2 linked regions of the Homo sapiens genome follow. The protein of the gene in region 1 interacts with the protein of each later gene in a pairwise test. Each region holds a gene or a part of one and is shown in the gene's direction. Other genes may lie near its edges.

Evidence for each region.
Region 2: the proteins of ANXA3 (region 1) and IGSF21 interact in a two-hybrid assay, tested with the Homo sapiens proteins (one large-scale study listed by BioGRID and IntAct).

Annotation. Positions count from the first base shown.
Region 1 is NC_000004.12:78,607,187-78,611,003, forward strand, and holds the end of ANXA3 (annexin A3), read left to right. Parts: intron 1-2,869; coding exon 2,870-2,929; 3' UTR 2,930-3,261; downstream 3,262-3,817. UniProt on the Homo sapiens protein: Inhibitor of phospholipase A2, also possesses anti-coagulant properties. Also cleaves the cyclic bond of inositol 1,2-cyclic phosphate to form inositol 1-phosphate.
Region 2 is NC_000001.11:18,289,298-18,293,114, forward strand, and holds part of IGSF21 (immunoglobulin superfamily member 21 precursor), read left to right. Parts: exon of another isoform or gene 1-233; intron 234-1,757; exon of another isoform or gene 1,758-2,568; coding exon 2,569-2,690; exon of another isoform or gene 2,691-3,817. UniProt on the Homo sapiens protein: Involved in synaptic inhibition in the brain. Selectively regulates inhibitory presynaptic differentiation through interacting with presynaptic NRXN2.

The DNA of each region.
Region 1 (3,817 bases):
CACTGAAAACTTCAGTTTGCAGTTTGAAATAGTACAAGATTTCTTTATTTCTACCACCTAACACATATTATTAAGTAATCTCATTACATTTTTGCTATTGAAGAACAGGATCTTTTTAGATGGTTGTTTCTGAAATTCATGGGATAGAGTTCCATTTTGCATATCATCTCAGCCTGTCATCCTGCCTGTTTTCTTCCTTCCACCTATTGTTTAGACATTTCTTTGTCCATTGACACCTTTCTCAGGGGGTAACCGGTGGGAAGGAGAAGGCAAGGAAGAACAGAGGTGAAAAACCAATGTGTACCTCTTACTACTTTATAAGAAGATATTATGGAAAATTTAGATGAAATTATATTTTTTGGTAGTTTTCCTTCATAGACAAATTCTGTATTTATTTAATAAATAGCACAATTCCAAGCTTTTTATGGGAAAATATAGTAGCCACTCACAATCAACTCATAATCTATGTGGAGACTTGAGGTAGGTATGAAGAAACAATTAGAAGATAATAATTGAAACAACAGACAATTAAATACTAGATTGTTGAATATAGAGCTAGTACTATCGGAATTGAGAAGAAAAGAAGTTTGGGGTTAGAGAAATGGGTCTTGAGCCTGCCTTTCAGGTCAACAAGCATGTGTTGAGTGTCTCCTGTGGGCCAGGTGCTCTGCTGGAGCATTTACCTTTAAGACCCCAGATCAATAGGGTCTTAAAAGTAAATGCTCTAGAGACAGATATGGGAAGAAGCAAGAGGGAAAGAAGTAATAAGGCATTTGTTTGATTAGAGGGTCTACCTTGGGGAATATTGAGAAATAAAATCCAAGTAGCAAGATGAGTTCAGTTGAAAGAGAGCTTTGAGATCAGCGAATTCACTCATTCAATTAAAAATATTATCAAATGCATATTATGTGCTAGGCTCAGGGTTACAATTATAAGCAAAGGGGGTAGGGTGGGGGAAGACATTTTCTGCCCTTATGGAATTACAACTATGTTAAATGTAAAGGAAAGTGACATTGTGCTAAAAGATCCTACAATAGTAGGACTTGACTTAGAGGAAAGGCTTCTATGAGAAAGTCATGATTCAGATCTGGAAAATAAGTAGATATTAATAAGGCAAAATGTATGGAGGTAAGGGAGCCAGTAGAACATTCTAATAAAAGAAATGACAAATGGAAAGGCCTCATGGTGGAGGAAGCATAATGAAAAATGAGGATGTGGGGGCCAGATCATGCAGGACCTTTTTGGCAATGTTTAAGGAATTTTGGCTTTAGCTTAAGAGTAAGGGGAAGCCATTGAAGAGTTCTGGGCATGAGCTCTTGAAGAGTTAGTATCAGGATCATGAAAAGATCCCTGTAAGATCTTCTTATTCTGGAGAATAAGAAGGGCTCAAAAGATATTTAGGAGTTGAAACTTAAGGGACTTGGTATAATATCTTGGTGTGAGGAAAGGAAGATAGCAAGGATGACACTCAAGTTCCTAACTTGGAAAACAGACAGTGGCGCCATTCCTTGCAAGAGGATCAGGTTTTAGGTTGTTTGTTTGTTTGTTTGTTTCCTTTTCTTTTGGGGGAGTGGGGGGAGGTTTATGAGTTTGGTTTTACATGTATTGAGTTTGAGATGTCTTTGAGCCATGTAAGACATGTGGAGAGGTCAAGTAAGTCATTAGCGGTGTAAATATACTTTGAGTTACTTGGATGTATTTTCTTGACTAACTGGTAGAACGCCTAATTGTTTACAACTCTGATCAGAGATGTCTAGAAGGAGCTCTTTTAATACAAAGCTGGAGCATTGTTGACTTGTCAGCTCTGCTATTGCAGAGCAAGACAGGAAAACCAATAGCATAAGAACTAAAATCTATATAAAAACGAAGAATATTGTCATATATTTTGTGAAACAGACAAATGAACAAGAAATAAAGAAAACAGAAAAATATATATAAAGGCCTATTGTGTCTTACTATGAAAGTAATGCTTAACTTCTTCACTAAATGAGCCTTCTCTGAGACTTCCTTTATATTACCACTTTCTCTAATATTCACCCCAGTAACAGCCATTCCAAATGTGAAACTTAAGTGATAAGAAGAGCTCACTGGTTGGGTTACCTCAAATAAAATAAAAATAATGTGAGCATCTTACACAATCCAGGTTGAAAGCCAAGTTTTACCTCCTGTGAAGTCTTTTGCGTTACAAACTTGGTATCTTTGCCCTTTAAGCCTCAACCTCACGTAGTATCTTTTCTGGACAACAGTCTATTTTTGGTTGGCCTTGGGAAAAGGAACTGATAAACATATTCTTTAAAAATGTGGTTCATTTCACTTTCCTAAGTTAGGCAGTGTAGCAGGGTATTAAGGAGCCAGGATATAGGGATTCAAATCCTGCTTTTGTCACTTATTCTCGATAAGATTTGAGGCAAGTTTCCTAACCTGTCTTTCTCATTTTACTTATCTGTTAAATGGGGGATACGTATAGTACCTATTGCAGAGAGCTTTTAAAAGGGTTAAAGTAGTTAATACACATTAAGCCTTTTGAATAGCAAGTGTTCGATAAATATTATTAAAACTAAAATTTGAAGTTTTTATAGAAATCAATATTATGTAAGTGATGCAATCTTATTTTATTAAACCAAAATTGAAATTTAACTGCAGTATATCAGGAAGAATCTAAATATTACTTACAGTGAAGAAGATGCTGGTCAGAACGTAATTACACTCAGGTATGAATGAATGATGGAATTGCAGGTATGTTTTACTAAATGGTATAGCTCATGAGTCTCACACCCAGGTGAATTCCCTAGTGCTATAGGATTTGATTCATTTATGGTCTCCCATTATTTATACTGTATTTGTTCTTCATTGATTTTATTCTTTGCAGTCGGATACTTCTGGAGACTATGAAATCACACTCTTAAAAATCTGTGGTGGAGATGACTGAACCAAGAAGATAATCTCCAAAGGTCCACGATGGGCTTTCCCAACAGCTCCACCTTACTTCTTCTCATACTATTTAAGAGAACAAGCAAATATAAACAGCAACTTGTGTTCCTAACAGGAATTTTCATTGTTCTATAACAACAACAACAAAAGCGATTATTATTTTAGAGCATCTCATTTATAATGTAGCAGCTCATAAATGAAATTGAAAATGGTATTAAAGATCTGCAACTACTATCCAACTTATATTTCTGCTTTCAAAGTTAAGAATCTTTATAGTTCTACTCCATTAAATATAAAGCAAGATAATAAAAATTGTTGCTTTTGTTAAAAGTAATTTCTTTGTTTGCTTTCAGAGCTTGCCAACATTGTTTGATGCCTGGTGCCAACAACTAATATTTTAAAACATGTTTCTGTATAGAAGCTGTTACTGCTTCAGTTTATCACCTTGTTAATCACACTTTTTTGAAAGAAAGGAATAAGATGAAGATGTATGTGACCCTGGCCTACCCTTTGTAGTTGTGATCAAGCTATAGGAGTGGTAATGCATGATAAGTTATTTCAGCTTTCAGAAAACATCTGCTGAAGGATTAATCTAACCACTTCCTGTCTGAATGGCAAGCATGAATTATGGTTGCTTCATGCTAAATACTACTTTCCCAGAATGGGCATTTAGAATCAAGCCTCTAAGGTTTCCTTTTCTCTTGAGTTGGCAAAACTATGCATTTAAAGAATCCATCATGCCATCTTTGAGTGGGACCTAATATGAAATACCTTGACTGATATGAAATAGATAAAGTGAAAAAAATTCCAGTTAGAGTTATTTTCCTGGACCAGAATAGAAATGATCGTACTGGCCATGTGCAGTGGCTCACGCCTGTAATCTCAG
Region 2 (3,817 bases), on another chromosome or scaffold:
GACTTTGGGAGAAAAATCCTCACACCTCCACTGAGATTCTGACATCCTTTCTCCTAATGAGCCTGGCCACCAGGGGTGGAAAGGGACGTTGAGAGGCATTCAGTTCACCCGCAGTCTCTTCCAGCCTGATGGGATGGGATGTGAACTCTGGTCCAGAAGCCAGACGCTTGTCAGGAACCTAGTGTGGGGCCTCAGCCGAATCATTTTGCCTCTCCAAGCCTCAGTTTCTTTACCTGCAAAATGGGAACATTCTTGTCTATTCGGCTCTGTTCCCAGGGACCTGGTACAGCCACACAATGTGATGGGCTTAAAACTGGGTTTCTCCACCTGGGCACTGTTGACATTTGGGGGCCAGATAATTCTTGGGAGGGGGGCAAGGGGCTGTCCTGGACATAGTGGAATGGTCAGCAGCTTCCTAGCCTCTATCAGCTAGACACTGGTACCTACCAAACCGCACCTCTCCTCCCCAGTTGTGACAACCAAAAATGTCTCCTGAGCTTGCTGTATGTCCCCTGGTGGTTAGGGTGAGCAAAATCACCCCCCAAGTGAAAAGGCCCTGCTTTAAAGGTACTTTGGTGGCTGTAAAAAAGTCAAATGGGTGAGGCGGGGATGGGAAGAGGGTGCATGGAGAATGGGGAGCCCCTGGAGGGTCTTGGCCTCTACCCCAGGCTGGGACATTGGGATGTGGGGAGATGGAAGCTCTGATCCCAAGTACAGCCAACTCTCTTCTCCACCCCATGCCAAGCTGGACACAGTCAACTCAGGGACATTCTTCTGGGTGATGACAGTGGACGCAGAGTCAAGGTGTGGTTGGTTGGGGTGAGCATCTTTCTTGGGGTGAGTGCCAGCAGGGATCCCAAGAGGAGAGGAGAATCCTCCTGTCCCCGTCCTCCTCATCTTCCTCCACTCTCATGGTCCCGTTTCAGAAGCTGGGCCTGTGCTGCAGAAGCAGCCAGGTGGGAGGAAGTGGTCCTCTGTCTCCCCTCTGCACATGGTCAGAAAGCGCCAAGCCCTCAGAGGGGAAGAAAGTGACGCGTGTACATGTCGCTAAGTCCCGACAGAGATAGGAGGGGTGTGGGCTTACGGAGGGGTAAGGAGAAGCCGTGCCCTGGGAAGTCTCACTGCCGCTTCCTCTCAGGGTCCCAGAGCCTGCGAAGGCCTTCTCATGATTCTAACCATCCCCCGTCCTCACAGAGGCCACCTTACTCTTTACAAAGCTTGCAGGCTATGGAAAGTGACTGGCACAGACGTAGCCTGTGTCTGCACACAGCTGGTTGCTCAACCAGTGCTGGCCAGATGCACGGAGTCTCTCCTAAACCAGTAGCAACACCACCTAGGTCAGAGAGATGTGGTCCAAGTCAGCTTGGGTACATATGTGTCCAGAGGAGCCCAGCTGTGTCTAGGGCCAGTACTCCCAGGCAGGTGACAGGGGGACAGATTCACACTCCAATCCTCACCTTTTTGCCTGGGGAAGCTGCTTTCAGCATCCCCCCTACCCCAGCCCCTTGGAGTCACCCGTCCCTAGCCAGCCCCCTCCCTGCCCCTTTCCCCGCTGCCTCCACCACACAGAGCCGCAGGGAGCTAATTCCACTTCTCTAGGCCCAGGCATGAGGCCTCCCCATTGCAGGCTGTTAGCGCAGAGCCCAGCTGAGCTGCGAGAGGCTGCAAGCTCCCAGTCTATAATAGAGTTGCTGAGACAAGCGGAAAAACTGCAGCCGAGTAAACAGATAAATAATTGAAACAGTGACAACACATACCTTGCTGCTTCGTGGAGTAACACTTTCATTAGCTGGAGGCAGCGCAGATGTGGGGAAGCAGGCGGGCGGCAGCTGAGGGCACGGACGCTTGGGTTCGCTTTCCATCAGCCATGAACAGCGGGACAGCCCGGCAGCCTTGGGCTTCCAGCGCTGGCTTCATCGCCACCTCCCTGCCTTCTCCCACTTCCGCATTCTTAGGTGAAATGGGGACTTCATGTCCTCTCTCCTGGCCCATCCCAAGACGAGGGCAAGTGCCCCACGCTGTCCCCGTCTGCATCGCCCGTGCCGGGATGTTGGATTCCTGGCCTCCTCCCGGGCTCCCTGCCTCTAGTCTTGCCCCTTTCGATTCATCCTCAATCTATAGCCAGAGGAGCTTGTAAATCTAATCTAATCCTGGCCCCGGGGACCACCGCCTTCAGGAGAAGCTGAGCTCCTTTGCTGTGGAGACCCTCCATGATCTGGCCCACATTTTTCTTCGCAGCCTCTTCTCATCCCACTTCCTTTCTTCTCCAGGTGCTGTGAAGGCAGCAAGCTTCCCCTGAGCGCACACTGCTCTTTCCTGCCGCAGGGCCTTTGCTGTTCCCTTTGCCTAGAAAACTCCCACCCGTTGCCAGGCTGGCTCCTACTCTTCCTTCAGGAGGCAACTTAAAACATCGCTGCCTCCAGGAAGCCCTCGGTTATTACCTTATTCTCAGGATGGGGGCTGTCCTTCTTCTGGGCTTCCTGCCTGCATCTTGTCAGTGTCCTGGGGAAAGGGGTGACCAGGGCCGGTTGAGCACTCACGTGTGGCTATCTCTGTGCTCTGTGGCAGGTGACGGATGGTGGCACCATCAAGCAAAAGATCTTCACCTTCGACGCCATGTTCTCCACCAACTACTCACACATGGAGAACTACCGCAAGCGAGAGGACCTGGTGTACCAGTCCACTGTGAGGTGAGTGCCTGGGGGTGGCGGGCCGACAGCGGGGGAAGGGCGGAGGGATGGGGAGTGGGGCAGAGGGCAGTTCTCCAGCCCTTTCACATCAATCCCTCGGTGCTCTTGGGCTTGGAAGGCAGAACTGGGGGCTCCCCTTATGGAAGTGGGACCCATTCCCTGGAGGGACATCCCCTGGAGGGAAGAGGCAGGAGAGGGCCAGGCCACCGCTCTTCTGACTGGCCTCCTCTGCCAGCTCCTCCAACAGTCCTGGAAGGTGGGTATTCCAAACTCCATTTATTTCCAAGTGAGATACTGAGGCCCAGAGAGGGGGAGCAATGGGCCTAAAGTCACACAGGCAACAATGACACCGCTGGGCGGTGAAGCAGTTCTGCCCGGCTTGGAAGCTCAAACACCACATTCTACTGTTTTTTGTGTGCTCCAAGGCCATAAGGGCCCCGAGCTTAAGAGAGAATGACCCCAAGCAACTGGACTCCCAGGTCAGAAGCAGCAGGGTGGGAAGGAGCAGTGCTCAAGTCGGAGATGCTTGATTTTCCTACCCCATCCCTGTTTTCCAGGAGGCGGGTGGCAGAATCAAGCTGACTCGATCTTCCAGAGCCTGCTGTTCTCTATGTGTGTGGCTCTATCTCCTTCCCACAAACTCCCTACAAGATCCTAGTCCTGTTTTATCCCTTTGACCCTTAACACACACCGGTCCCTCTTCTCAAAGGGCCTTTCTCCCTTCGGTCATCTGGTAAACTCCTCATCAGCCTTCAGAACCCCACTCCAGCAATTCCACCCATGGGAGCCCTCACCTTAGCTGAACTGATCCCCCAAAGCTGGTCGGCTGCAACTGCCCCAGTACCCACCCCTCCTCAGAGGGAATCTCACTGCATTCATGAAGAGTGCACAGCTTTGCACACACACACTCTTCCACGCCACACCGCCAAATGCTTTGCCAGGTGCCCAGCCTGAAAGTAGTGGTCTGCTCCAAAGCTGGAGGGGGACCGTGCTGCATCGGGTACCGTGAGGGGGACTGCAGCCCCGGCAAGCCCACATGATGTGCACTGTGGCACCATGCTATGTGGATGTCTCAGCTAGTGCCTGGTACTGTGTTGTCTTTAGACTGAGCCTGGAGGAGGGGGAAG